Linked DNA regions of Homo sapiens: region 2 is linked to region 1. Evidence: fine-mapped expression QTL. A gene starts in region 1. The other region holds a variant in brackets. All regions are shown on one strand. Distances are between the middles of the regions. Region 1 holds the start of CHMP7 (charged multivesicular body protein 7). Region 2 has its middle 18 kb from the start of SLC25A37.

What was found. PIP is the estimated chance that this variant, and not a neighbour inherited with it, causes the effect.
Region 2: its variant is fine-mapped to the expression of CHMP7 in whole blood (TOPMed, PIP above 0.99).

The regions. Positions count from the first base shown.
Region 1 is chr8:23,232,483-23,247,012 of GRCh38, reverse strand. CHMP7 (charged multivesicular body protein 7) reads right to left here and starts at 3,376. Exons shown (of 11, transcript NM_152272.5): 1 at 3,169-3,376; 2 at 19-757. The coding sequence starts at 317. RefSeq lists a silencer at 1-343 and enhancers at 364-613, 3,183-3,684.
Region 2 is chr8:23,503,482-23,518,777 of GRCh38, reverse strand. No RefSeq gene overlaps it. Among named protein-coding and RNA genes, the nearest start is that of SLC25A37, 18 kb to the left of the region's middle. RefSeq lists an enhancer at 9,542-9,771 and a cis regulatory region at 9,299-10,155. The variant G/A (reference allele first, on the strand shown) is at 8,602.

The DNA of each region.
Region 1 (14,530 bases):
CCCCAGCCCGCCCCTCACCGCAGCAGGTCCTGCAGCACCGTGGCCAGCCCCAGCGGGACGCTCCCCTTGCGCTGAAAGGCCTCCTGCAAGTCCCGCAGACGCAGGCGCACCACCCCCTGGCGGCGGCTGTGGCTCAGCACCAACGGCGCCCAGAAGCCCATCTTGCTGTCCCAGTCGGTGCTGTTCACCTCGCGACTCCTCTTGAAAGCGGAGAACAGGAAGGACATGCGCTCCTCGTCCTCCTCCCACTCGGGGGGCAGAAGGCCCGCCGGGTCTCCCCCGGCTGGGGCCTCGGCCTCCCGCTCCGGGGACCACATCGGAACCCCAGCCCCGGCAAGGCTGCGAACACAAGCCTGGCCCTGGTCCGCTTCCGCCCTCGTTCCCTCCCGGCTTCCGTTCCTTGACCACCTCCTTCTCGTTCACACGTCACCGCCGCCCTGAGCGTGAAATAAGTTCCATAAGTCTTCAAGGCGCATGCGTTGCGCTGCGCTCCGTCAGCCAGGAGGCAGTATGATGAAGTTCTTTTCAGAGAGACACCGAGCGCTTGCGCCGACCCCTCCTCCCACGGTCTTTGTGCCGAAAGAAAGGCTTGCGCCTGCGCGGCAGGTGGCTGCACCTTACGTCTCCTTCAAGATTCTGGAGTTCGGCAAAGCGTTGTACAGCGGCTTCTGACCTGTGGCTTCAGAAAATGGAACTGGGGAATAGCCGCAGAGGGGCGCCAGTGGTGCCCGGACCACCCGGATGGATCCGTGAATCTCTGTATAGAGGGAAATTTATATCAATGAATGCACAAACCAGAAAAGAAGAAAGATCTAAAATAACCTAAGATTCCACCTTGGGAATCTATAAAAGAAGAACAAATTAAGATCAAATTAAACAGAAGAGAAAAAATAATAAAAAGAGCAGAAATCAATGAAATTGAAAACAAACTCAAAAGATTATCAACAAAACCTAAAGCTGATTTTTTGAAAAGGTCAATGAAATTGATTAACCTCTAGCCTGGCTAACAAAGAGAAAAAACAAATACTCAATATCAGAAATGAAATAAGGGACATTACTGCAGATCCCATGGGCATGAAAATGATAATAAAGGAATACTATGAATAACTGTATGTCCACAAATTTGATAACCTAGACGAAATGGACACATTTCTTGAAAGCACACTCTGCCAAAACACACAAGAGGAAACAGACCACTTGAATATGTTTATATCTAATTAATTGAATCAATAATTAACAACATCCACACAGAAAGCATTAGGCCCAGATGGTTTCATTTGATAAGTTCTACCAAATATTTAAGAAAAAAGTTGTACCAGTTCTGTGCCATCTCTTTTATAAGATAGAAACAAAAGGAATACTTCCCAACTGATCCTATGAGGCAAGGATTACCCTAACGCCAAAACCACACAAAGACATTACAAGAAAGAAAAAACACAAAACAATATATCTTGTGAATATAGATGCAAAAATCATCAATAGAATGTTAGCAAATTGAAACCCACAATGTATCAAAAGAATTGTACACCAGGTTAAAGCGGAATTTATTACAGCTAGGCAAGGCTAGTTCAATGTTCAAAAATCAATTAATATAATCCACCAACAGACTAAAGAAAAATCATATGATCATATTGCTAGATGCAGAAAAAGCATTTGACAAAATCCAACACCAGCTCATGATAAAAAGTCTCGGCACTCTAGGAATAGAGGGACACATCCTCCACTTGATAAAGAACATAAACAGGAACCTTACAGCCAACATAAGAATTAATGGTGAAAACCTAGATCGTTTTCCAGTGGAATCAGGAATAACACAAGAATGTCTGCTCACACCATTCCTAGTCAACACTGTACGGGAAATCCTAGCTAACACAGTTAGCCAAGAAAAAGAAATAAAAGTTGTACAGACTGAAGAGGAAGAAATAAAATGGTCTGTCTTTATAGAAGACATAATTATCCATGCAGAAAATTATGAAAGAATTGCCAAATCGATGTCCTGGAACTAAGAGGCAATGAGAACAAGATTGCAGATACAAAGTTAATGTATAAAAGTCAATTCCCATATACCTATAATGATCAAGTGGAATATGAAATTAAAAATGCAATACCATTTACATTAGCACCCCCCTATAAAACTTAGGTATAAATCTAACACGGTATGTACAAATTCTACATAAGGAAAACTACAAAATTCTGATGAAAGAAATCTATGAAGGACTAAATAAATACAGAGGCATTTTATATTCATGGACAGGAAAACTCAATATTATCAAGATATCAATTCTTCCCAAATTGATCTGTAGATCCAGTGAAATCCCAGTGAAAATCATGGCTAGTTATTTTGTGGATATCAACAAACTAATTCTAAAGTTTATGTGGAAAGGCAAAAGACCCAGAAGAGCCAACACAATATTGAACAAATAAGTCAGAGGACGGATACAACCCAACTTCAAGAATTACTATAAATCAACAGTAATCAAGATAGTGTGGTATTAGTTAAAGAATAAACAAATAGATAAATGGAACAGAATAGGAATCCCAGAAATAGGCACATGTAAATACAGTCAACTGACCTTTCGAAAAAAGAAAGGCAATACAATGGTTCAAAGAGTCTTTTCAACAATGAGCACTGGAACAACTGTACACCTACATGCAAAAACAAAAACAAATCCAGGTACAGATCTTACACCATTCACAAAAGCCAGCTCAAATGGATCATGGACTTAAATGTAAAAACACAAAACAATAAAACTCCTAGAAGACAAAACATCTAGATGACCTTGGGCATCATGATTACTTTTTAGATACAACACAAAAAGCATAATCCATGAAAGAAATAATTGATAAATTAGACGTAATTATTATTATTATTATTATTTGCTTTCTGAAAGACACTGTGAAGAGAATGTGAAGATAAGCCACAGACTGGTAGAAACTATTTGCAAAAGACATCTCTGATAAAGGACTGTTATCCAAAACACACGAGGAACTCTTAAGACTCAAAAAAAAAAGAAAAAGAATAACCCAGTTAAAACATGGATAAAAGATCTGAGCAGACCTCTCACCAAAGAAGATCTACCAACGGCAAATAAGTATATGATAATATGCCCAACATCATATGTCATTGGGGAACAGCAAATTAGACAAGAATAGCATACTACTACACACCTATTAGAATGGTGAAAATCCAAAATACTGACCACACCAAATGCTGGTGAGGATGCAGAGCAACAGGAACTCTCATTCATTGCTGGTGGAAATGCAAACTGGTACAGCTACCGTAAGGTTGGCCAAGAGAAAAGACGAGTATACTCAAAGTCAGGCAAGCAAGTTTATTGACCTGCCGGCCTGCTGCATAACAGTCAGAGGAGGCAGCCCAGGGTGTTTAAGGTGAGGGACTTATATAGGGCTTTGAGGGCCTAGGGGCTTTCTGAGGTTAGTCTACATCCTGCAGTTGTTTGTCACTTCTTGCCCCACCTGGCTTAGAGTACCAGGATGTGGTTTGGCCTGGGGGTGGATACAGCTGTACCTAAGTTCTGGTAACGTGAAGTAGGGGCAGCATCTCAGAAGAAATAAGCTGCAGGGCATTTAGGGGAGGGGGCTTGCTGCGTTCTTCTGTGGACAGGTTGTCTCTAAGAGCTACTTTGGAAGACAGTTTGGTCGTTTTTCACAAAATTAAACATTCTCTTCCCATGCAAGTTTACTTATAGTTTAACTTTGAAACAAAGTATAACAGTCCTTTCCCAAAACAAAACTCCTTACTGCCTGTGGACTAGACTGCCTAGACTGCCACAAGATTAGAAGTTATGGTAATTTTACTAAATCAAGATGTAGCTATTTTCATTAAACCAGTATCAATGTCTTATTTATTAATGGTTACACGAGCAGAGATCATTCTGTCTTGGGCTGGGTTTATAGCCTGTGCCAAATTTTGACACCTAATAGTATTTGGCAGGGTTAAGTATGAAATTGCTTGATTAATAAACGCAAATAAAAATGTATGCTGGCAATTCCTAAGACATTTCTAATATTACTTTACCAATAATTTTAAAGATAGCTTATTTATTAAAGATTTTACTTAAGTCACATAACTTGAAAAAGCATTTGACTAGTCTTTCCTTTTTCTAATAAAGTATTTGATGTAAATGCTTTTATTTTTTAAGACAATTAATTAGAGCTCTTTGATATATTTTCAGGAGTGCAACATTGTATACATAACATATAAATACATAGATGTATTAGGCATGCTGATAGAAGAAGTACATCTTACAGATTCATAAAAACCTTTTTTCTTTATCTTAGACTTTCAGATTCTTGATAACCTGTTTCACAGTGCTAGGCAGTAGTCAGCTAAATAGTCTTAAATTTGCATATTAAAGGAAACAACTCAGGTGAAAGTCAGATAGCAAAATTTACATTATAAGGTCTGAAGAGAAATTCTGTGAGCTAGAGGGAAATTAAAACAGATTTAATTGCCAATTGAACATAAAATTATAGAAATTTATCACTGGATTGTATAAGGAGACCACTGTTATTTAGATAGGGACTACCAATTCTTTTTTAACTGGATCTCTGAGCTCTGGGCAGAGCCCACACTGAATCCTGGGTCTCCAAAAAGGGAGAATTATTATGAGGCTAGACCACATGATGCTTTTACAGTGCACTTAAAACATTTTTGTAAACAAAGCATTTCTAAGTGTCTAAACTATACTCTTTCTTAAAAACCCAAGAGTAGCCTCTGTTGCAATAACTATTTTAGTAAAAAAAAAAAAAAAAATCGAGTGGAAACAGAATTGAGTCAATTGAGAACAAAAAAAGTTTTTGCTCAAAAAAAGACAAGGTCCTAGCAGAGAAAAACAAAAACAAAACCATGAAGGCCTTTTAAATATGAACATGCACTTATGCACACATACACATACACATACATTTTAAATATTAGCTTTTAATTAAGTTGACTTTTAACTATTGAGTGTCTTTAAAAATAAAAAATCTTGGGCTGGGTGCAGTGGCTCATGCCTGTAATCCCAGGACTTTGGGAGGCCCAGGCGGGCGGATCATGAGGTCAGGAGATGGAGACCATCCTGGCTAACATGGTGAAACCCCGTCTCCACTAAAAATACAAAAATTAGCCGAGTGTGGTGGCACGCGCCTGTAGTCCCAGCTACTCAGGAGGCTGAGGCAGGAGAATCGCTTGAACCCGGGAGGCAGAGTTTGCAGTGAGCCAAGATCGTGCCACTGCACTCCAGCCTGGCGACAGAGCAAGACTCTGTCTCAAAAAAAAAAAATTCAAAATTTTATTATTATATTTCAGCTAGGACAAATTGCTGCTATTTCAGAAGTACCAAGTATTGGTCCGGCGCGGTGGCTCACACCTGTAATCCCAGCACTTTGGGAGGCCGACGCTGGTGGATCACCTGAGCTCAGGAGTTCGAGACCAGCTTGACCAACATGGAGAAACCCCATCTCTACTAAGAAATTCAAAAGGCACATGCCTATAATCCCAGCTACTCGGGAGGCTGAGGCAGGAGAATTGCTTGAACCCGGGAGGCGGAGGTTACGGTGAGCTGAGACCACGCCATTGGACTCCAGCCTGGGCAACAAGAACGGAACTCTGTCTCAAAAAAAAAAAAAAAAAAAAAAAAAAAGCAGAAGTACCAACTATCAAACCAGAAAGGACTTGATTTAGGAACCAAACTTAGGCTGTCATGAAGACAGGAGAAAAAAAAAGGCAGAACCTTAGCTATTGAACTGCAGAGTAGGGGGACAGCCATTGCTTTCAGTTTGGCCTGGTTAGCAAAAAGGAGGCTTTGTTATGTAAATAAAACCCCTTAAGTAATAAAAATAAAACATTTTTCTTGCCGGCCGGGTGCGGTGGCTCAAGCCAGTAATCCCAGCACTTTGGGAGGCCGAGGCAGGCAGATCACCAGGTCAGGAGATCCAGACCATCCTGGCTAACACGGTGAAACCCCGTCTCTACCAAAAAATACAAAAAAATTAGCCAGGCGTAGTGGCGGGTGCCTTAGTCCCAGCTACTCGGGAGGCTGAGGCAGGAGAATGGCGTGAACCCGGGAGGCAGAGCTTGCAGTGAGCCGAGATCGCGCCACTGCACTCCAGCCCGGGCGACAGAGAGCGACTCCGTCTCAAAAAAAAAAAAAAAAGTTTTTATTTATTTTTTTTCTTTTGTTGGCCGTTTTTCTCCCCTCACTATACCACCTTTTTTTGTGTATGGGAATTTAGCCACTTTAGAGGCCTTGTTCCTCATAATTTGGAACTTTCCTTCGGATTTGATTGAGTTGGACAGAGTTGGTCAAACCCAACGGGAGAAAGACTGAAACAACAAAAACAGAAACAAATAAACATCAACAACAACAAAAAAGTTAAGCAAAACAAACAATCTCACAACTTAACATAATTCCTGAGCACTGTAATGGTAAGGAGAAATAAAGACCAGCTGGTTTTTAATCTTAACTTTAGCCAAGATAAACCCCAATTCAGTTGCTTATCTAGGAATGGATCTCAGGCTGTAGACCACTCTCTACCATCCTAGAAGCAGAAAAACAAACAAAACAACAACAACAACAACAACAACAACAACAAACTCACCTTCCCTGTTGGAAGTGAGCTCAAACTCCATAAAGGAGTTACCTATCTTCCATCATCATGGAAGCAGGAAAACTTGCCTTTCTTGTTGGAAGCAAGTAAAACTCCAAAAAAAAAAAGTTGTATAGCAAAATAAACTTTAGATTTCAACCAAATTTGGGAAGATAGTAATTCTCTTGGTGGGGCGGAGGGGTGAGGGGTGGGTTGCTCTCAGACCTCAGCAAATTGTCCCATAGGTTTGAGCCATAAAGTAAGCTCATGCTGGTACCAAGCACCAATAGGTGCTTGTCAAATCTAGCTTGTCAGAGGCTAGATTTGTCAGAGGTGGGGAGCATTCCACTCAGAATCCCTTTATGGTTATTAAATATGGGCCCAGAATATCTGAGACGGGTCTCAGTTAATTTAGAAAGTTTATTTTGCTGGCCGGGCGCGGTGGCTCACGCCTGTAATCCCAGCACTTTGGGAGGCCAAGGTGGGCAGATCACCAGGTCAGGAGATCGAGACCATCCTGGCTAAGACGGTGAAACCACGTCTCTACTAAAAATACAAAAAATTAGCCGGGCATGGTGGCAGGTGCCTGTAGTCCCAGCTACTCGGGAGGCTGAGGCAGGAGAATGGCGTGAACCTGGGAGGCAGAGCTTGCAGTGAGCGGAGATCACATCACTGCACTCCAGCCTGGGCAACAGAGCAAGACTCCATCTCAAAAAAAAAAAAAAAAAGGTTTATTTTGCCAAGCTGAAGACGTGTGCTCATGACACAGACTCAGGAAGGCCTGAGGACATGTGCCCAAGGAGGTCAGGGCACAGCTTTGTTTTACACATTTTAGGGAGACATGAGATATCAATCAATATATGTAAGAAGTACATTGGTTTGGTCTGGAAAGGTAGGACAACTTGAAGCAAAGGCAGGAAAACTAAAAGCGGAAAAGGGATGTATTAGTCAGGGTTATCTTACAGGGATAGAACTAACAGGATATATATAAAGAGGAGTCTCTTAAGTATTAACTTGCACGATCATAAGTCCCACAATAGGCTGTATGCAAGCTGAGGAGCAAGGAGTGTCAGTCCGAGTCCCAAAACTGAAGAACTTGGAGTCAGACGTTCATGTTCAAGGGCAGGAAGCAGCCAGCACAGGAGAAAGATGTAGGTTGGGAGGCTAGGCCCATCTCTCCTGTTCATGTTTTTCTGCCTGCTTTATATTCACTGGAAGCTGATTAGATTGTGCCCACCAGATTAAGGGTGGATCTGCCTTCCCCAGCCCACCGACTCAAATGTTAATCTCTTTTGGCAACACCCACACAGACACCCCCAGGATGAATACTTTGCATCCCTCGATCCAATCAAGTGGACAGGCAGTATTAATCATCACAGAGGGCTTCCAGGTCACAGATAGGTGAGAGATAAACGGTTGCATTATTCTGAGTTTCTGATTAGCCTTTCCAAAGGAGACAATCAGATATGCATTTATCACAGTGAGCAGAGGGATAACTTTGAATAGAATGGGAGTCAGGTTTTGCCTTAAGCAGTTCCCAGCTTGAATTTTCACTTTAGCTTAGTGATTTTGGGGGCCCAAGATATTTTCCTTTCACAAAGGATACCCAAAAATGTGGAAGCGACTTCAGAAGTGGGTAACAGGCATAGGTTGAAACAGTTTGGAGGGCTCAGAAGAAGACAGGAAGATGTGGGTAAGTTTGGAACTTCCTAGGCACTTGTTGAATAACTTTGACCAAAAAGCTGATAGTGATATATGGACAATGACATCCAGGCTAAGGTGGTCTCAGATGGAGGTGAGAAACTTGATGGAACTGGAGTAAAGGTCACTCTTGCTATGCAAAGAGACTGGCGTCATTTTGCCCCTGCCCTAGAGATTTGTGGAACTTTGAACTTGAGAGTCATGATTTAGGGTATCTGGAGGAAGAAATTTCTAAATGGCAAAGCATTCAAAAGGAAGCAGAGCATAAAAGTTTGGGAAATTTGCAGACTGACATTTCAATAGAAAAGAAAATCTCATTTTCTGAGGAGAAATTCAAGCTGGCTGCAGGAAGTTGCATAAGTAATGAGGAGCCAAATGTTAATCACCAAGACCATGGGGAAAATGTCTTCATGTCTGCAGGGCATATCAGAGGTCTTCATGGCAGCCTCTCCCATCACAGACCTGGAGGCCTAGGAGGAAAAATTGGTTTCCTGGGCCAGGCCCAGGGTCCCCCTGCAGTTTGCAGCCTTAGGACTTGGTGCCCTGCAACCCAGCCACTCCAGCCATGACTAAAGGGGGCCAATGTACAGCATGGGTCATGGCTTCAGAGGGTGAAAGCCCCAATCCTTGCCAGCTTCCACATGGTGTTGGTCCTGCAGGTGTGCAGAAGACAAGAATTGAGGTTTGGAAACCTCTGCCTAGATTTCAGAGGATGTATGGAAATGCCTGGATGTCCAGGCAGAAGTGTGTTGCAGGGTGGAGTCCTCATGGAGAACCTCTGCTAGGGCAGTGCAGAAGGGAAATGTGGGGTCAGAGCTCCCATACAGAATCCCCACTGGGGTGCTGCATAGTGAATCTATGAGAAGAGAGCCACCATCCTTCAGACCCCAGAATGGTAGATCCACCAACAGCTTGCACTATGCAACTGGAAAAGCCACAGACACTCAACACCAGCTTGTGAAAACAGCCAGGACAAGGGGGTGTACCCTGCAAAGCCACAGGGGCAGAGCTGCCCAAGGCCTTGGGAGCCCACCTCTTGCACCAGCATGACGTGGATGTGAGACATCAAGTCAAAGGAGATAATTTTGAAACTTTAAGGTTTAATGACAGCCCTACTGGATTTCGGACTTGCATGGGGCCTGTGGCCCCTTTGTTTTGGCCAATGTCTCCCATTTGGAATGGGTGTATTTACTGAATGCCTATACCCCCTTGTATCTAGGAAGTAACTAGTTAGCTTTTAATTTTACAGACTCATAGGTGGAAGGAACTTAACTTGTCTCAGATGAGACTTTGGACTTGGACTTCTGATTTAGTGCTGAAATGAGTTAAGACTGTTGCCACGGCATGATTATGTGTTTTGAAATGTGAGGACATGAAATTTGGGAGGGGCCAGCGGTGGAATGACATGGTTTAGCTGTGTCCCCACCCAAATCTCATCTTGATTTGTAATGAGAGGTAGTTTAATCATGGGGGTGGTTACCCTCATGCTGTTCTCATGATGATGAGTAAGTTCTCATGAGATCTGATGGTTTATAAAGGGCTTTTCCCCCTCTTTGCTCTGCACTTCTCCTTGCCTGCTGCCATATAAAATGTGCCTTTGCTTCTCCTTTGCCTTCTGCCATGATTGCAAGGTCTCCTCAGCCATGTGGAACTGTGAGTCAATTAAACCTCTTTACTTTATAAATTATCCCATCTTGGGTATGTCTTTATTAGCAGCATGAGAACAGACTAATACAAATGGTTTAGCACCATCCCATGGTGATAAGTGAGTTCTTGCTCAGTTAGTTCGTGCAAGATCTAGTCATTTCAAAGGTTACAGCATCTCTCTCCTTTCTCTCTTGCTCCCACTCTCACCAAATAATGTGCCTGCTCTCACTTCACCTTCCCCCCCATGAATAAAAGCTAAAAGCTCCCTAAGGCTTCACAGAAGCCAAGCAGATGCCAGCATTATGCTTGTACAGCCTGCAGAACTATGAGCTAATTAAACCTTTCTTTATAAATTACCCATATAGCAATGCAAAAATGGCCTAACACAAGTGGTTATGAGATCTGTGTCAAAAATCATTTGACCGTATTTGTGAGGGTTTAATTTTGGGCACTTTATACTATTCCATTGGTCTATATGTCTGTCTTTCTGCCAGTAGCACACTACTTTGATTCTTATAGCTTTAGTTAAGTTTTGAAAAGAGGAAGTATGAATCCTCCAGCTTTGTTCTTCTTTTTCAAGGTTGTTTTGGCTGTTTAGAGTTCTTGAGATTCCATATACATTTTAGGATGGATCTTTCTATTTCTGCAAAAATACATCATTGGTATCTGGATCGTGATCACATTGAATCTGTAGATTGCTTTGAGTAGTGTTGGCATCTTAAGTCTTCCAATCCATGAACACAGACTGTCCTTCCATTTATTGATGTTTTCTTTAATTTCTTTCAGGAACATTTTGTAGTTTTCAGTGTACAAGTTATTTGCCTTGTTGGTGAAGTCTATTCCTAAGTATTTTTATCATGCCATTGTAAATGGAATTGCTTTCTTAATTTTCTTTTCAGATTGTTTATTGTTGGTGAATAGAAAAGGAACTGATTTCTGTGTATTGATTTTTTCTGCAACTTTTCCAAATTTGTTTATTCATTCTAATAAATGTTTGTGAAATCTTTAGGGTTTTCTATGTATAAGATCATGGCAGCTGCAAATAGAGATAATTTTATGTCTTCCTTTCAAATTTGAATGAGCATATTTCTCTTTCTGGCATAACTGCTCTAAGACTTCTAGTACTATCTTGAATAGAAGTGGTGAAAGCAGGCATCCATGTCTTGATCCTAATCTTAGACAAAAATCTTTTAGTCTTTCATCCTTATGTTGGTTTTCATTTTTCAAATATGTTTTTCATTATGTCTATCTAGTTTCCTTCTATTCCTAGTTTGTTGAGCATTTTTATCATGAGACAGTATTGAATTTTGTCAAATGCTTTTTCTGCATCAGTTGAGATCAGTATGGGCAACAAGGAGACCTTGTCTATACTAAAAAAAAAAAAAAATAGCCAGGCATGGTGGCACACCTATAGTCCCAACTCCTGGGGAGACTGAAGGACGAGGCTTGCCTGAGCCCAGGAGGTGGAGGCTGCAGTGAGCTATGATCAAGCCTCTGCACTCCAGCCTGGGCAACAAAGTGAAACGCTGTCCCAGAAACAAAAACAAACAAACAAAAAGAGATGAGGATTATGTGGTTTCTGTCCTTCATTCTGTTAATGTGCTGTATTACTTTGATTTTCATATGTTGAACCATGTCAGCATTCCAGCGATAAATCCCGCTTGATTATGGTGTATAATCCGTTTTTTTTTTTTTTTTTTGAGATGGAGTCTCGACTCTTTTTGCCCAGGCTGGAGTGCAGTGGCACAATCTCAGTTCACTGCAACCTCCCCGTCCCAGGTTCAAGTGATTCTCCTGCCTCAGCCTCCTCAGTAGCTGGCATTATAGGCAACTGCCACCAAGCACGGCTAATTTTTTTTTTTTTTTTTTTCTGAGATAGAGTCTTGCTCTGTCGCCCAGGCTGGAGTGCAGTGGTGCGATCTTGGCTCACTGCAAGCTCCGCCTCCCAGGTTCAGGCTGTTCTCCTGCCTCAGCCTCCCGAGTAGCTGGGACTAAGGTGCCCACCACCACGCCCGGCTACTTTTTCTATTTTTTAGTAGAGATGGAGTTTCACCGTGTTAGCCAGGATGGTATCCATCTCCTGACCTCGTGATCCGCCCGCCTCGGCCTCCCAAAGTGCTAGGATTACAGGTGTGAGCCACCACGTCTGGCTCTTTTTTTTTTTTTTTTTTTGAGATGGAGTTTCACTCCTGTTGCCCAGGCTGGAGTGCAATGGTGCGATCACGGCTCACCACAACCTCCGCCTCGTGGGTTCAAGTGATTCTCCTGCCTCAGTCTCCCAAGTAGCTGGGATCACAGGTGCATGCCCACCGGGCCCGGCTAATTTTGTATTTTTAGTAGAGATGGGGTTTCTCCATGTTGGTCAGGCTGGTCTCGAACTCCTGACCTCAGGTGATCCACCAGCCTCGGCCTCTCAAAGTGCTGGGATTACAGGTGTGAGCCACCGTGCCCAGCCTAATTTTTGTATTTTTAGTAGAGATGGAGTTTTGCCATGTTGGCCAGGCTGGTCTCAAACTCCTGACTTCAGGTGATCCACCTGCCTCAGCCTCCCAAAGTGCTGGGATTATAGGCGTGAGCCACTGCACCCGACCGGTGTATAATACTTTTTTAAATGTTTGATTCAGAACCAGGCATGGTGGCTCACACCTATCATCTCAGCCCTTTGGGAGGCCGAAGCAGGAGGATTGCTTGAGCCGAAGAGTTTGAGACTAGCCTGGGCAACATAGCAAGACCCCATTTCTACAAAAAAAAACAAGAAATTAGCTGGGCGTGGTGACAGGCAGCTAAAGTCCCAGTGACTTGGGAGGCTGAGGGAAGGGGATAACTTGAGCCCAGGAGTTCAAGGCTGCAGTGAGCTATGATCACACCACTGCACTCCAGCGTGCTGACAGAGCAAGACTGTCTTTAATAAATAAATAAATAAATAATAAAAATCTGTAAATGTTAGTTTCAGTTTGTTATTATTTTGTTGAAGATTTTTGCAGCAAAATTTATAAGGGATATTGGTCTGTAGTTTTCTTTCTTGTAGTATCTTTGCCTGACTTTAGTGTAAGGACAATTCTGGCCTCATAGAATCAGTTAGGAAGGGTTCCCTCCTTTTCACATCTTTGAGAAAACTTGGGGTTGATTTTTCTCTTTTTCTTTTTTTTTTGAGACGGAGTCATTCTCTTGTCGCCAGGCTGGAGTGCAGTGGCGCAATCTCGGCTCACTGCAACCTCCGCCTCCTGGGTTCAAGCGATTCTCCTGCCTCATCCTCCCGAGTTGCTGGGACTATAGGCGTGCACCACCACGACCGGCTAATTTTTGTATTTTTGGTAGAGACGGGGTTTCACCATGTTGGCCAGGATGTCTGGATCTCTTGACCTTGTGATCTGCCCACCTCGGCCTCTTAAAGTGCTGGGATTACAGGCATGAGCCACCGTGCCCAGCCGATTTTTCTTTAAATATTTGGCTGGACACAAATCTGGTCCAGGGAAGTTTTTGATTGTTGATTCAATCTCCTTCCAGTTATGTCTGTTCCAATTTTCTATTTCATTATAAATCAGTCTTGGTAGGTTGTGTGTTTCTAGGAATTTGTTCATTTTAGCTAGATAAATGTGTTTTTTTGGCATACATTTTTTCATAGTACTCTCTTCTAACCCTTTTTATTCCTGTAGAATCAGCAATAATGTCCCACTTTCATTTCTGATTTTAGTAATTTGAGGATTCTTATTTTTTAATAAATCAAGCCAAAGATTTCTCCATTTTGTTAATCTTTTCAAAGAATCAACTTTTGGGCTTATTGATTTTCTTTACTGTTTTCCTATTCTCTTTTTAAAATAATCTCTCCTCTATTTTTTTTTATTTCCTTCTTTCCGCTACCTTGGATTTAGTTTATTCTTCCTTTCCTAGTTTCTTAATGTGTAGATTGTTTATTTTAGGTCTTTTTTCCTTTTTGATATAAGCATTTACCATGATAACATTTCCTCTTAGCACTGCTTTTACTGCATCCCATAAGTTTTAGTATGTTGTGTTTTTTGCTTCACTTATCTCCAGATCTTTTCTAATTTCTTGTATGAGTTCCTCTTTGACTCGTTGGTTATTTAAAAGCTTGTTGATTTCTACATGTTTGAGGAGTTTACTCTTTTCCTTCTGATACTGATTTCTAGTGTCATATTGTGATCAGAAGAGATACTTTCAGTTATTTTAAATTTATAAAGAATTACTCTGTGGTCTAACTTATGGTTTATCCTGGAGAATATTCCATGTATCTTTGAGAAAAATTGTATGCTTCTGTTTGTGGTGAACTGTTTTCTATGTCTTTTAGTTTCCATTAGTATATAGTGATGTCCAAGTACGCTACATCCTTATTGATCTTCATTCTGATGGTTCTGTTTTTGAAAGTGGGACAATTGAAGTCTCCAACTATTATTATAGTAGTGCAAATTTCTGCCTTCAATTCTGTTTATTTCCTGTATTATGAACATGATGGATTGGATAAAAGGAATTTAGTGAAACAGAACTTTTAGTAGGAGGTTTTATTTCTGACTAGGAGTTACGGAGTGTTTACTGTGTGCTGTAGCTATTGTTGTCATAGACTAAAATTTCTTTT
Region 2 (15,296 bases), 270 kb before region 1:
CAATGTGACACAGCAACAGAAAGGAATGATTCTCAACTTTGAACAACATGGTTCAATATGACAAACGCAATGTGGAGCAAAAGAAGCCAGACACAAAATAGTAGACAATATGATTCATTTAACATACAGTTCAAGAACAAAAAAGGCTAATTGATAGTGTTAGAAACCAGCATAGTCATTACCCTTGTGGCCGCAGGGAAGTGTGAGAGACCTCCTGGGAATCTGGTTGTGTTCTGGGTTTTTTTATTCGGTGTGTTTACTTCATGGAAATTCATTGAACTGGACACTTACGATTTCTACACTTTTTATAACATATATGTTATAAGTCAATATATAACTATAAATGTAGAAATATTTATATATTCTGGAGAAAAAATATAGTAAATATTTGTTTAATTGATTGAGGAGGAAGCAGAGAATAGCAGGAAAGTTTGAAGTTTACAGGAAAGGTAAACTTTGAAGTCAGAACTCCTGACTTACCACCTGCTACCTAGCTGCATGTCCTTGGAAAAATTACTTACCATCTCTGAGTCTGGTTCTCAATTATAAAATGAACACAAAGAATTCCTACATTGCAGAATTAAATGACAAATTACAGAAGGCACCTGATATATATTAATGCTATTATACATATATAGGCTACTGCTATATGTATAACATATAATACATATAATAGTGATATATATATGCCAAACTGTCAATTTCCCCTTAGTGTTTGGCTAATATTTGTCAGCATTTACTGTAGCCATAGACAGTCGCCAAGGCTGGAGTGCAATGGCACGATCTCGGCTCACTGCAACTTCTGCCTCCCGGGCTCAGGCAATTCTCCTTCCTCAGCCTCCCGAGTAGCTGGAATTACAGGCACCCACCACCACGCCTGGCTAATTTTTGTATTTTTAGTAGAGATGGGGTTTCACCATTTTGGTCAGGCTGATCTCGAACTCCTGACCTCAGGTGATCCACCCTCGGCCTCCCCAAGTGCTGGGATTACAGGCATGAGCCACCATGCCTGGTCTGCCATAGAGATTTTTCATAGCATGTTTATGTTCACCAAAGATCTGTCTCTTAATCAGCAGTTAATTCTGCTTTTTAAGTGTCCTCTGGCCAGGCGCAGTGGCTCACACCTGGAAACAACCCAACTGTTCATCAGTAGCAGAATGGATAAATAAAATCCCAGCACTTTGGGAGGCCAAAGTGAGCAGATCAACTGAGGTCTGGTGTTCAAGACCAGCCTGGCCAACATGGTGAAACCCCATCTCTACTAAAATTACAAAAATTAGCCAGGCATGGTGGCGGGCGTCTGTAATCCCAGCTACTCAGGGAGGCTGAGGCACAAGAATCACTTGAACCCTGGAGGTGGAGGTTGCAGTGAGCTGCAATCACACCACTGCACTCCAGCCTGGGCAACAAAAGGGAGACTCTGTCTCAAAAAAAAAAAAAAAAAAAAATTGTCCTTTTTTTTTTTTTTCCAAAAATCAAAATCTATTTGATAAATGCAAGTATATAAAATCAGGACATGAACATGATTTGCTCAGTTTAATGAACTTAATTTTAAGATATAGATCAATTCAAATTCCCATCAATTGTGTCACATCCATAAAACTTACTTTAAGGGCATTAGCAGGCTCTCAAAATTGATCAATTTGGCACAAATAAACTATGTTTCTCTTAAAAGGCTTGTGCACTCACCCAGGCACAAGGGTGTTACAGTCGAGCACATTTACACAGGTAGAAACACAGAGTGCCTTCTTGTAGCTTTGCTGTATTCCCCTCTGTCCTTCTGTCACTGTCCTAGGAGAGCAGTGAACTCCCTTAGTTTCAGTGTCTCTCCATTCCTGGAAGTTGGTGGCCAAGTCATCCTAAAAAATAGCAACTTGATAACTTTCCAGCACTTTCAGATATCTTATCTCCCTTCCTTCTTAGGGCTGTTATTAAGGAGTAAGCTGGAGAAATGCAGGCCGTGTAATTTTATGATACTTGGGTCCATTTGTTGCTGCACCCCAGGAGGGTTGATTAATGGTGACAATATCAGCAGGAAGGGGGTGGGACAAAGGACTCTGTCCTTGACTTAGGTTCAACTCAACTATTTTTTTTTTAATCAACTACTAGAAAAAGTCCTGGGATGCAGATTTATCAACCTCTTAGAAGACAAAGCTAGGGGGAGTCACTTCTTAGAATGTTAAAATTCAATTTTTTTTTTTTTTTTTTTGAGACAGAGTTTCGCTCTTGTTGCCCAGGCTGCATGCAGTGGCACCATCTCGGCTCACCGCAACCTCCACCTTCAGAGTTCAAGCGATTCTCCCGCCTCAGCCTCCCAAGTAGCTGGGATTACAGACATCTGCCACCATGCTCGGCTAATTTTGTATTTTTAGTAAGACGAAGTTTCTCCGTGTTGGTCAGACTGCTCTTGAATTCCCAACCTCAGGTGATCCACCTGTCTCGGCCTCTCAAGGAGCTGGGATTACAGATGTGAGCCCTTGCGCCTGGCCTCAAAATTATTTTTAAAATCTTTAAAAGTATAAAATTTTACCCTTAAATCCTAAACATTAGGGAATTACTGGACGAGACTCAGCACTCCTAAGCAGATAAAACTTCACATGGCATTGTCCTCGCCCCCCAAGCTTGGCACAAACTCCAGCTCCTAGAACAATTTTCCCTGGCTCTCTTCACCTGGATGGTTGCTACTCGTCCTTCCAGTCCCCATTTAGATGTCACCTCCTCTGGGAAGACATGCTGACCTCACAGGTTTGCTTCTAGTTGCTCAAGCCGAAAACCCTGGAGTCATTCTTAAGTCCTTGTCTTTCACACAGAAAATTCCATCAGTCAAGAATCATGCCAGCTCTACCTCCAAAGTGTTCCTTTCCAATATACAGTATAGCTGTATATAGTCTTTTTAAGTGTCTAACTGGATTATTTATGGTTTTATTTATTGTGCTTATTTGTTGGTGTTTATTAACTGTTTCCCCCCAAAAAATGTGTCTCAAGAGAGACAGAACTTCAGTCTGTTTACGGATACTTTCCAGAATCTACAGAGGTTTGTAAGACATGGTAGAAACCTAAAAAGTATTTATTTTTTATAAATGAGCAGATAAATGTTCGGTACTCCTGTATCACTCTGAATTCTCTCATCATAAGATTTTGTATCCTGTCATGTAATTGACAGAGGTTTGTTTCTACATAAAAACCTGTCTTTTGGCCAGGTGTGGTGGCTCACACCTGTAATCCCAGCACTTTGGGAGGCCAAGGTGGGTGGATCACCTGAGGTCGGGAGTTTGAGACCAGCCTGACCAACATGGAGAAACCTCGTCTCTATTAAAAATACAAAATTAGCCACGCATGGTGGCACATGCCTGTAATCCCAGCTACTCAGGAGGCTCAGGCAAGAGAATCGCTTGAACCCAGGAGGCAGAGGTTGCAGTGAGCCGAGATCACACCATTGTACTCCAGCCTGGGCAACAAGAGCGAAACTCCATCTCAAACAAACAAACAAACAAACAAACAAAAACTATCTTTTCATTACACCTTTGCCCATGAATAAATTCCAGTTGTCACGTAATGGTTTGACCATTTCACTAGACTACAAACCACAAAGAGCCCATAGCCGGTCAGCCTGGCTGACTGCCGTACCCCCAACACCTTGGGGCAGTGCTCTGTAGAGAGACATAGCACATGCATTAAGTGCCAGGCACTCATCTGTGTTTTACAGGCACTAATTCATTTAACCCTCACAACTACTCAATGAGGTGGGTACTACTGCTATCTCTACTTTATAGATAAAGAAATTGAGGCCCTGAAAATTTAGGAAATGTATACAGTGGCACACAGCAAGAGATGGATCTTGGATTCTGACCTAGGAAATCTGGCTCCAGAGCTCAAGTTCTAAACTACTACGCTGAAGTGCCTCATCTTCTCAGGACACTTAATAAAAATTGTTTAATAAATAAATCCATGAAATATGGCTGCCAAAAAGAGGAGAATGTGTTCTTAAGCTGCATTAATAAAGTGTCAAGATAAGAGAGGCTGTTATAAGCCACATACATAATTTTAAATTTTCTAGTAGTCACCTTAAAAAATGTAACAGGAAACTGGTGAAATTAATGTTAATAATATATTGTATTTATCCCAATTTCTCCAGCGTAGGGTACAGGTCAGCTCAGTTTACGATGACTCGTTTTCAAAAAGACATCAGTCCACTGAAGTGGGTCTGAAGACTTAAACCACAAAGGCAATGAGTCTGCAATTTATGAATAGTTAGTGAAACTTCTCAGCCTTTGAAGAGTTGGGGTGGGAATTCAGGATCTCCCTTCAAATCCAGGGATTCCTGTGGGAAGAGGACTCATCTGGTGCAGTGGGGCCTGAGGGCAGAGCTGAGGGGTGAGAGTTAAGTCCTAGAAGGGCAGATTTCAGTTCCCTATAAGAAGGAACTAGTAGTTAGAAATACTAAAAATTTCAAAACCCAAGGGCCTCGCAACAGATGAATGGATAAACGCAATGTGCTCTATACATACAATGAAATTTTATTCAGCCTTAAAAAGCAATGAAATTCTGACATATGTTACAACATGGATGAACGTTGAAAACATGATGCTAAGTGAAATAAGCCAGTCACAAAAGGACAATATGTGATTGCACTCACATGAGGTACCTAAAAGAGTCACATTCATAGAGACAGAAAACAGAGTAGGGGTGACCAGGGGCTGGGAGAGTGGGAGAATGGGGAGTTAGTGCTAATGGGTGCAGAGTTTTAGTCTGGGGAGATGAAAATGTTCTAAAGATGGTGGTGGTGATGGTTGCACAGCAACATGAAGGTACTTAATGCCGGTTGATTGTACATTTAAGAATGGTTAGAGGCTGGGTGCTGTGGCTCACGCCTGTAATCCCAGCACGTTAGGAGGCTGAGGCAGGTGGATCAAAAGGTCAGGAGTTTGAGACAAGCCTAACCAACATGGTGAAACCCTGTCTCTACTAAAAATACAAAAATTAGCCGGGCCTGGGGTGTGTGCCTGCAATTCCAGCTACTCAGGAGGCTGAGGCCGGAGAATCACTTGAACCCAGGAGACGGAGGTTGCAGTGAGCTGAGATCGAGCCACTGCAGCACTCCAGCCTGGGCAACAGAGTGAGACTCCATCTCAAAAAAAAAGAAAAAAAGAATCGTTAGAATGGTAAACTTTATGTTGCGTGTCGTTTACCACAATAAATAATGGAAAAATTAAATTTTTAACCCATTTATGCCTGAGGTTATGCAATTTTTGGAATTTTTGCAGACCTTGGTGATGACCTTGAGCAGTAGGATATAAATAACTCCCACATGCTTAGCGTTGCAATTACGGAACTCTAGGCTTAAATGGGTTAATAAAAAAATCAGCAAACAAATAAGGCTCTGCCCTGTGAGACAATGGCAGCGAATGAGCTGAGGCAGAGGTTAAAGAAAATATAGGGACATTCTTGAATTTGGGTGGGAGTTAGACAGGTTGGCCCTTCAGGTCCTTTTTAATTTTTGAGTTTTTAGTTGTCTGTTTTGAACATTTGTTGAGCACTCAGTATGTCGTAACTATGTTAAGTATGAAGTATATCACTGACTTTCTACCACTCCCCGAGTCATCACTATCATAGTCCTCATTTTACCTACAAGGAAACCCAGGCTTAGAGTTCTCAAGCAATTTGCTCAAGGCCTGCCACATTCTAAATGTAAGAAAGAAGGGCAGAAACTCCAGAGACAGCACCAAGCTACAGGGCATGGATTTCACTGATGGGGAAACCGAGAGGGTTCCGTGACTCACACAAGACCATGCAGAGCCGGCATCAGGGCTCAGGTCCTTCCTGCTGTCAGGGGCTCCTCAATGACTCTACGCTCCCTCCCCACTCTTTCCTCCTCTGCTTGGGGCATCAAATGCTTTGTGGGCATCCTATTTGGTCACAGAAGGCTCTAACTGTCCTCAGGAAGGCACATGCCCAGCCTCAGAGAACATTACTGGGCCAGGATGTCTCATGAGAGACATAAAGACTGGGCCAATGTTGGCGGCACCATCACTGTCCTTTCAGAGCCCAATTTCCTGATTAACAAGTAAGTTACCTTGTTATTTTCATCACAATTTCCCATGTCAAAACCTCAGCGCTCCCTCATTTAAAAGGCAGTTGTAAATGATGATTTGAGAACACAAGCGCTTCCATAAACCCAGTGCCCATTTTAATTTCAGGAGCACCGTGCTTTGTGTTTGATATGGTCTGTTGGTGCTTTGAAGCAGAGTCTAGACAGTAGAAATAGAAGTCAAGCTACATTATGTAATATTACACTTTCTAGTAGCCACCTTAAAAAATGTAAAAGGAAAAAGGTGAAATTAATGTTAATAATATATTTTATTTAACCCAATTTATCCAAAATAATTACTGATGAGATTTTTGCATTCTTCTTTCATGCTATCTTTGAAGTCAGTACATATTTTATATATAGTTACATCACATCTCAATTCAGCCTAGCCATATTTCCAGTGATTAACAGCTACATGGAGCCAGTGACTACCATATTAAACAGCGCAGGTCTAGGCTCTTTTTTTTTTTTTTTTTTTTTTTTTTTGAGACAGGGTCTCACTCTGTTGCCCAGGCTGGAGTGCAGACTGGTGCAATGATGACTCACTGCAGCCTCCACCTCCTGGACTTAAACAATCCTCCCACCTCAGCCTCCCAGGTAGCTGGGACTACAGGCATGTGCTACCACTCCCGGCTAATTTTTTTTTTTTTTTTTTTTTTTTTTGTATTTTTAGTACAGACGAGGTTTCACCACATTGCTCAGGCTGGTCTCAAACTCCTGGGCTCAAGCAATCTGCCACCTCGACCTCCCAAAGTGCTAGGATTACACTATGCCCAGCTTAGGCACTTTTTTCTAGGAGTTTGATGCTGAAGTATAAAAGAGAAATAAGGGAGTTACATCTAGTGAAAATTTTACTTAGAATGAGATGCTGATCATACATGTCACCTATGGGGCATAGAGAGGGGAGGGACTAAAGATAGAAAAGAAAGGAAATAAATAATGGTGCCTTCTCCAGGAAGATGCTTGACTGGGGTGGATGGGGGTGGGAGGAGTACAGAAGGTGTGCTATCAAGGGCCAAGACAAGGGCAAGCTTTGGAGCCAGCGCTGATCAAGTTCTTCTACAAGAAACTCAACCTCTATAGAAACTCTTCTATAAGAGGACTCAAAATCATTTTACTCTTTTTATAGGATTTCTAGTTTTCACCCTTATTTCCTTCTCTCCACCCTGTTGTCCCTCATTTATCCAATTGCCATCATTGCGATATCACAACAAAAGAGCTAGGACTCATGTCACCTACAAACCCATCCCAGGTGCCACTGCTCGACTATGGGACTTGCGGCAAATCAGCTTCCTTCTATGGCTCCAGCTCTCCTTAGTAAAATGAGATGGTCCAACTATTCAGGTACTCATTCATTCATTCAGTTAGTCAGTCAATAAGTCATTCTGTAAGTATTAAGCACTTAATAAGCACCCCACGAGGTTTGAGCTGCTCTCTGATTGTCACCTCCCTCTGATTCTGCTTTGTGTTCCTTGTGACTCCTGGGTAACCCTCGCTCTGCTGCCACGTGCTGGATCTCCCAGGCTGAAATTTTCTGTTCCCAAACCAAACAAGAGGCTCCTCAGGCAGCCCAGATAGTCCCTGCTAGTGACCAAGAAAGGGAGGAGAAGGTATTAGTCCATTCTTTCACTGCTATAAAGATACTACCTGAGACTGGGTAATTTAGAAAGAAAAGAGGTTTAATGGACTCACAGTTCCGCATGGCTGGGGAGGCCTCAGGAAACGTACAATCATGGCGTAAGGGGAAGCAGGCATGTCTTACAGGGCAGCAGGCGAGAGAGCGTGTGTGTGAAGCGAAGGGGGAAGAGTCCCTTATAAAACCATCAGATCGCATGAGAACTCCCTCACTATCATGAGAACAGCATGGGGAAATTGCCCCCATGATCCAATCACCTCCCACCAGGTCTCTCCCTCAACACCTGGGGATTACAATTCAAGATGAGATTTGGGTGGGGACACAGAGCCTAACCATACCAGAGAGGGAATGATCACCGACAGGATGGGCCACAGCTGTGCCCACTGCACTTTTCTACTCAGGAATTTTCTCAGTACAGTGGCCTCCTTAGCTTCCATTTGGAGGTTTCGGCCAATACCCATCAGAGCTCTTTGAACTATACACCAGAGCACTGGGAGCATAGGAGAGAAGAAGGCAAACACAACAAAAATCCCCAATCCGGTCTTCGTTCCTCAAAGCCTGATTTATAACTGCTATCAGTTAGTACTTAGGGGGCCATGGGGTGGTGCCTCTCTCAACCCTGGCAATGAGGGAAATTTGGCTTTCCTCTGACGGTCAAAGCTGAGAGTTTGCATAGAGTACATCGGAGCTGCATAGCCACCTCAAAGAGAGAGGAGGATACTCAGGCGCATGAAGTCTGACTGATAATGGATTGCAAGTAGCAATGCTTCATTAGAGAAGGAAATAAAAATGGGTACGTGAAAAAGAGTCTTGAAGTCTGGGAGTAAAAGGAGAGTCACACCTAGAGACTTCAGCAGTGCCTGTCCCCACAGAGATC[G/A]GAAAGGACACAGCCCTAGCAAGGCCCAGAGGTCCCATCTGCTGACAGCCTCCTGGAGCTGGGACACACAGGGCTTGTGAGCACAGGTGGCATGCCAGTATCCTGTGGCCTTTGGTTGGACAGGTGTGTAATGCCCTACTGTTTATACTGATGCTGCGAAACGCCTGATTTATCTAGTTTTCCCTGAGTGTGGCTTTGTGCTCATCAGGTAACCATCTAGGCCACGCTTTGGTTTCTACAATGCTTTCCCTTTAGAGAGGGAATGTGTCCAGGCTCTGGAGCCCGGTTATTTATTCCTCACTGTAAATTCACGAACAGGTTGGAACTCTAGTTCCGTACATTAATCTTCAGAGTTTGATAAATATGAACCAGGCCCTGAGAGATCAAAGTACTCTCAGGGCACCAACAAAAGCAGAGTTCTGAGTCTGTTTGGTCCACACCCTGCACAATGTGTGGGCAGTCACCAAAGGCCACCCATGCTACCCAGCAGGAAGCGGCCCTGCCTCAGTGGCTGCACCCCCAGAGCGGCTTATTTATTGGAGAAATGTTATCTGAACACTTTGTGTTGGAGGGCACTGAGCTGAGTTTTGGGAATTGCTTTTTTGGTGCCTCTGGTTTTGCTTTCTACTGTAACTTTTAGAGAAATTAAAATAACAGTGCTTTCCTTCCTCTTCTCAAGCCAAAAGATGACCTTTGAAAAAAGTAAATACGTGCAGGATGAAGGCAACCTCTGTGGTCCTGTTCTACCCCCACCTGCGGTTTTGCGGCCAAGGAGTTTGACTTTAATGAGTGGTTTCCCCTGACAGGGCGGTTCTTAAAATTCAGCTCTATCTTTGCTCCATGTTACCTGGACATAAGAGCAAGAGAGGGCCTCAAAGGCTCTGACTCCACGGAAGCCTCTGGAGGCAGGCAAGGACAAGCTGCAAGGCAGGTGGGAGAATCAGGTACACGGCCACCCAAGAGGCAAGTCCTCCCTGAGGGGCCAGCTGTTATGGAGTAACAGGAATCCAGCCGGTTTTGGAGTTTCTATCTTTGAGTCCATTTCTGTTTTGTGAGTGTTGTGCAGCTGATCCTGTTGTGAAAACGACCTTCGGGGGACAGTAGGAGGAAGCGCTGATCTGTTCATCATTTGCTCACATACCATATTTAACCCTCCTGGGGGCTCCTCCCAGGAGAGCTCAGCTATATTTATCTCCCACTGACTTGCCAGGTCCTTTCTGGTTGATTAGAGAGAGGGCGGGTTCAGTCCTATATCGGAAACCATCTGCTCTCAGGCCAGAGCCGCATGTACGGAGCGAGATCTCTCAGAGAGGTGGTGGGTATGGTAGGATAAGCTGGGAGTGACCTGTCCCCAGCACACACCCTCATTAGAACCCAGGGGAACCGAGGCTCTTAAAGGGCCAATATGAGGTATGTTTGTTTCTCCAGCTTGCTTTGATTGTTCAAAACATTGTCTGGTATGATTTTGGCTTATAGGACATTAAACTAATTATCATACACTGTAAACAATCGAGGACATGGCATTGTCCAGTGGCTACTAATAGGATATGCTCTTTTTATGTTCTCTAGGAGACGTTTCATCAACGATAGCTATGCTGCATAGATCATTTAGAAGCCAGCACTTCCAGGTGTTGCTGAAATAAAGCAGGACTAGCTTAAGAGTCACTTGATGCTAAAATACAGATTCCCAGGGACCACTCCCAGAGATTCTGATTCTGTAGGTCTAAGGTAGGACCCAGGAATTCGCATTTTTAGCAACTCTCTTCACCACTACCAACATCTCCCTTACGCGCATACGCACACCAGGTGATTCTGAGGTGCAGTATCAGGGGACCCCACTTTGAGAAAGTCTGTAGAGAGAGTACCAGGCTTATGATCTGCAGGCTTGGATTTGGGAATAGCTGTGTGATCTTAAATAAATTCCTCCACCTCTCTGGGCCGCCATTTCTGTGTCTAGAAAATGAGGGAACTGAACCTTAAGGCCCTTTCCAGGACCAATATTCCAGGAGTTCAAGCACATTCTGAATGCCCTCGCAATGGGTGTTCCAAATCTCCTATGGTGGAAGTCAAGCACCAGAATGAACTATACCCCAAAGAGGATGGTCACCTGACTCCCCCATTCAGGATTAGGCCTTTTAGGGGAGACAAGGCTATACTCTGATCTCACACAACCCCCTGCTGACTCTAAGTACTTCCTCGAGCACAGTCATTTATTTCTGCCTTCCTGCAGAGCAAAGGGTGAAACTTGCCTTATTGAAGGGACATTGAGGCACAGAGTGATGGAAAAGCTCAGAGACATGGACAGCTCATCTCTCCCGAACTCCTGTGCTTCGTCCTCGAGTCTCCTGCATAACATTGACTCATGAGGAGCTGTCATCTGTCAGAATGAATGGCGGACCCTGGAGGAGACCTATAAACAGGCCAACCCCTTTTTCTTTACTATTTTGCTCTGAGCTTTTGTTGCATGTACCTGCCATAGGAGCAATTTGCCCAGGCCCTGCACTCTTGAGAAGGAAAGCTCTCCTTCTTAAAGGAATTTGGAATCTTCATCCTTTGTGTTTTTATTACATCTGATCATCATCCCCTCCCAGTGAAGTGATAACATCTAATAAGCCATAACTTCCTGGACTCAGAGGCTTGGAACTCAGTTGTGAATCACCACCCATGATGTTACTGCCTGGTTATCGCAGTATGAAGTGACATACAAATAAGAAAAGTCCTTATTTGTGAGACTTGAGCTTTGCAGCCCAGTTTTACATTCTCCCTTCCCTCCCCCTTCAGATTTTGCAAAGAATAGGTCTATGATGACAGCCTCAGCTCTGCACACACCTCCCTGGGCTCCTACCTTCTCAGCTGCATAGAGTTGTGACTTTCAGGGGTTATTAATAATCACCTGATCTGTCTTGGGGAATTCTTGTATAAAATCACAAAATCTTATAGAAGATACTGTATGACTCCAGTTTCTGTTTCAATATAGCGCTATTCTCACATTTCATCTATTGGCATCTAATTTCTTTAACAAGAGCCTTGGGGTCATGGCACAACTTTTGACCTTAGAGAGATCACAGTTTAGCAAGGAATGAAGCTGTTCTTTCCTCTCTACCCTCTACTGCCTCCCAAACTTGAAGCCAGCACTTCAGAACACCACTGAAAATCAGAAAGCAGTAAAACAAACAAACAAAAAGGGCTGGGAAACAGCCAAAATAGATTTCGTAAAGTCTGTGTGTTCTTTGATCTTAGGGAATCCTCTGGTATGAGCTGTCATGCTGATTATTGTATAAACAAACCCAAAAAGTTAATTTCTAAACCCACGGTGAATTGGAAGAAAAAAATGGTGCTTGAAGGCAGATACTGACAGTATAAATACATGACAGCCTTCAGAAATGGCAAGGCTGAGAAGGCTAGAACTAGATGCTCTGTGTTCAGAGGCAGGAAAGTAGGTAAAATATTCTAGAAATTATTACAACGTAAAAATTTTAAAGAATTTAAAAGGATAAACCCTCAGCTATCTAAGAAGACACATTTCCAGAAAGTAGCTATGCTTAACTGGAGTTAAATATTTATTGTCAGTGAGTCAAATCCTTGGAGTATGCTGGTTAATAGAACATCAGTGAAAAGTGGAAGAGCCATTTACTTAAACCCCGTGAGCAGCCTTGGCTAAGTGAATCTTGGAAGCTTTTTAAAAAAATACTTCCAAAGTTTGGGGAGTTATCTAATTTTGCAATAAAAGCTGCCACACAAGCCAGGCACAGTGGCTCACACCTGTAATCCCAACACTTTGGGAGGCCCAGGCAGGAGGATTGCTTGAGCTCAGAAGTTTGAGCCCAGCCTGGGCTACCGAGGGAGACTCCATCTCTACCAAAATCAAAAATAAATATTAGCTGGGAGTGGTGGTGCATGCCTGCGGTCCTAGCTACTTGGGAGGCTGAGATGAGAGGATCTCTTAAGCCTGGGAGGTCCATGCTGCAGTGAGCCATGATTGTGCCTCTGCACTCCAGCCTAGGTGACAGAGCAAGACCTTGTCTCAAACTTCAAAAAAATAAAAAACCGGCCACCCCTCCCAAATACAGTGCTGTTTATCTAAGTGATGGAGGAGAGAGTGGTAGTATATTTAAGATAACCTAAAACTAACTTTTTGAGAATTTTTTAAACTTTCCATAATCCTTAAAAAATAACAGTTTTCTTATTACAAATGTGGTAGACAAACATTGTGGAAATTTTAGAAAATGCAGATAAGAAAAAAGAACAAGCTAAAAGTCACTGATAATTTCGTTCCCAAGAGATAGGACTGTGAACGTACAATGCATCCTTCCAGTCTTTTATATTTTAAATTATTTTTGATTGAAAAAGAGATACACAAATACATGCCCCTTTTAAACAAAAGCAGGCATCATATACAAAACTAAATTACCCATTGACCACCTCCCACAGTTCCAAACCCTTCCCTGCTATTCTGGTGCCCAACCGCTCTTGGGAGTTTGAAGTGTTTCCTTCCAGAATTTCATATGCATTCATGTATATATATGTATACACATATATAATTTCACATATAAATAATATATATAAGGATTTTTGTGTGTTGAATAACATTCCATTATATGGATATACCATATTTTATTTGACCTCTTAAGCTTTTAGCGGACAGTTAATATCATTAACAACTTTTCACTACTACAAACAACACTGCAGTAAACGTCTGTGTTTTCCCTTTCTCTATTCTAAATTCCTGTGAGAGGAAATTGTGGGTCTGAGGTATGCCCAAATTGTCCTCGCCATTTTAAATATGAAAACAGAGTATGAACGTTCCTGTTCCCCTGCGATCTTGACAACCCTTCACCTACCAGATCTTTCAAGGTAGCCAGCTGAGTAAGTGTAAACAGTATCTCGCCATTGTTTTCATTGGTATTTGCCTGATAAAAAATGTGTTTGAGCATCTTCTTATGTGTTTGTGGCCATGTGTATTTCCCCTTTTGTGAATTGCCTATGCATATCCACAGATCATTTTTCTTTCTTCTTCTTTTTTTTTTTTTTGAGACGGAGTCTCGATCCATTGCCCAGGGTGAAGTACAATGGTGAGATCTCCACTCATTGCAACCTCCGCCTCCCAGGTTCATGCAATTCTCGTGCCTCAGCCTCCCGAGTAGCTGGGATTACAGGTGCCCACCACTACGCCCAGCTAATTTTTGTATTTTTAGTAGAGACAGGGTTTCACCATGTTGGTCAGGCTAGTCTTGAACTCCTTACCTCAGGTGATCCACCAGCCTCGGCCTCCCAAAGTGCTGGGATTACTGGTGTAAGCCACTGTGCCCATCCCTTAGATCATTTTTCTAAAGGGCTTTTTTAAAAATTCATCTGTTTTACTCATTCTTTGAAACATACATTGCAAAGTTTTCTCCCAGCCCTCAGCTTGTCTTTAACATTGGGGTATCTTATTGTATGGTTCCTTTTTTACTATTTGGATGACATTTATTCACTGACCTAATTAAAATGTTCAGCCTTTTACTGCATGAGTTTTATTTTCTGTGACTTATTTAAGATCTCCATTTACTTGGGATCATAGTATTTTCTTATACATTTTTAGCTAACAATTTGAAATTTTTATATTGAAGGGCTAGGTTTTTAATTCATCTGTAGTATAATTTTGTGTACCACATAAGGTAGCGACTTAGTTTTATTTATTTTGTGTACACAGAGTTGATTCTGTCAATACCACTTATTTATTTATTTATTTATTTATTTATTTTTATTTTTATTTTTTTGGAGACGGAGTCTCAATCTGTTGCCCAGGCTGGAGTGTAATGGCGTGATCTCGGCTCACTGCAACCTCCGCCTCCCGGGCTCAAGTGATGATCCTGCCTCAGCCTCCCGAGTAGCTGGGATTACAGGCGCCTGCCACCATGCCAGACTAATTTTTGTATTTTTAGTAGAGATGGGGTTTCACCATGTTGGCCAGGCTGGTCTTGAACCCCCGACCTCAGGTAATCCACCCGCCTCAGTCTCCCAAAGTGCTGGGATTACAGGCATGAGCCACCACACCCGGCCAATACCATTTATTAAATAGTCCATATTCCCTCACTGATTCGAAACGTTGCCTGCATCACATTCCATTTTTGTAGTGTTGTTTCTGGATTTTTTTTTTTGGAATAATGTTTTATTGACCTAATTCTATTCTAATATTACAACAAAATGGGGCTAATTTAACTGCCCTACAGCACGAAAATGTGTGTGTGTGTTTACATCCTGCTTCTGTCTTATAACCTGCTATTTTTACTGAAAAACTGCAACAGGAGAATAGAGTGATTCTGGTAGTCACACAATGGAATATTACATAGCAATGAAAAGAAACCAAATCTTAGTATATCAACATGGATATATTTCCCAAGTAAAGAATTGAGTGTAAAAAACAAATTGTGTTAAAATGTCAGGGTGCCATTTACATACTGGTTTAAAATCTGTAAGGCAATATTTCACACAGTTTAGAAATATATATGCGGGCTGGGCACAGTGGCTCATGCCTGTAATCCCAGCACTTTGGGAGGCTGAGGTGGGCGGATCACTTGAGAAGTTTGAGACTAGCCCGGGCAACATGGTAAAAACCCCCGTCTCTACTAAAAACACAAAAATTAGCTGGGTGTGGTGGCGCACGCCTGTAGTCCCACCTAGTTGGGAGGGTGAGGCAGGAGAATCGCTTGAAC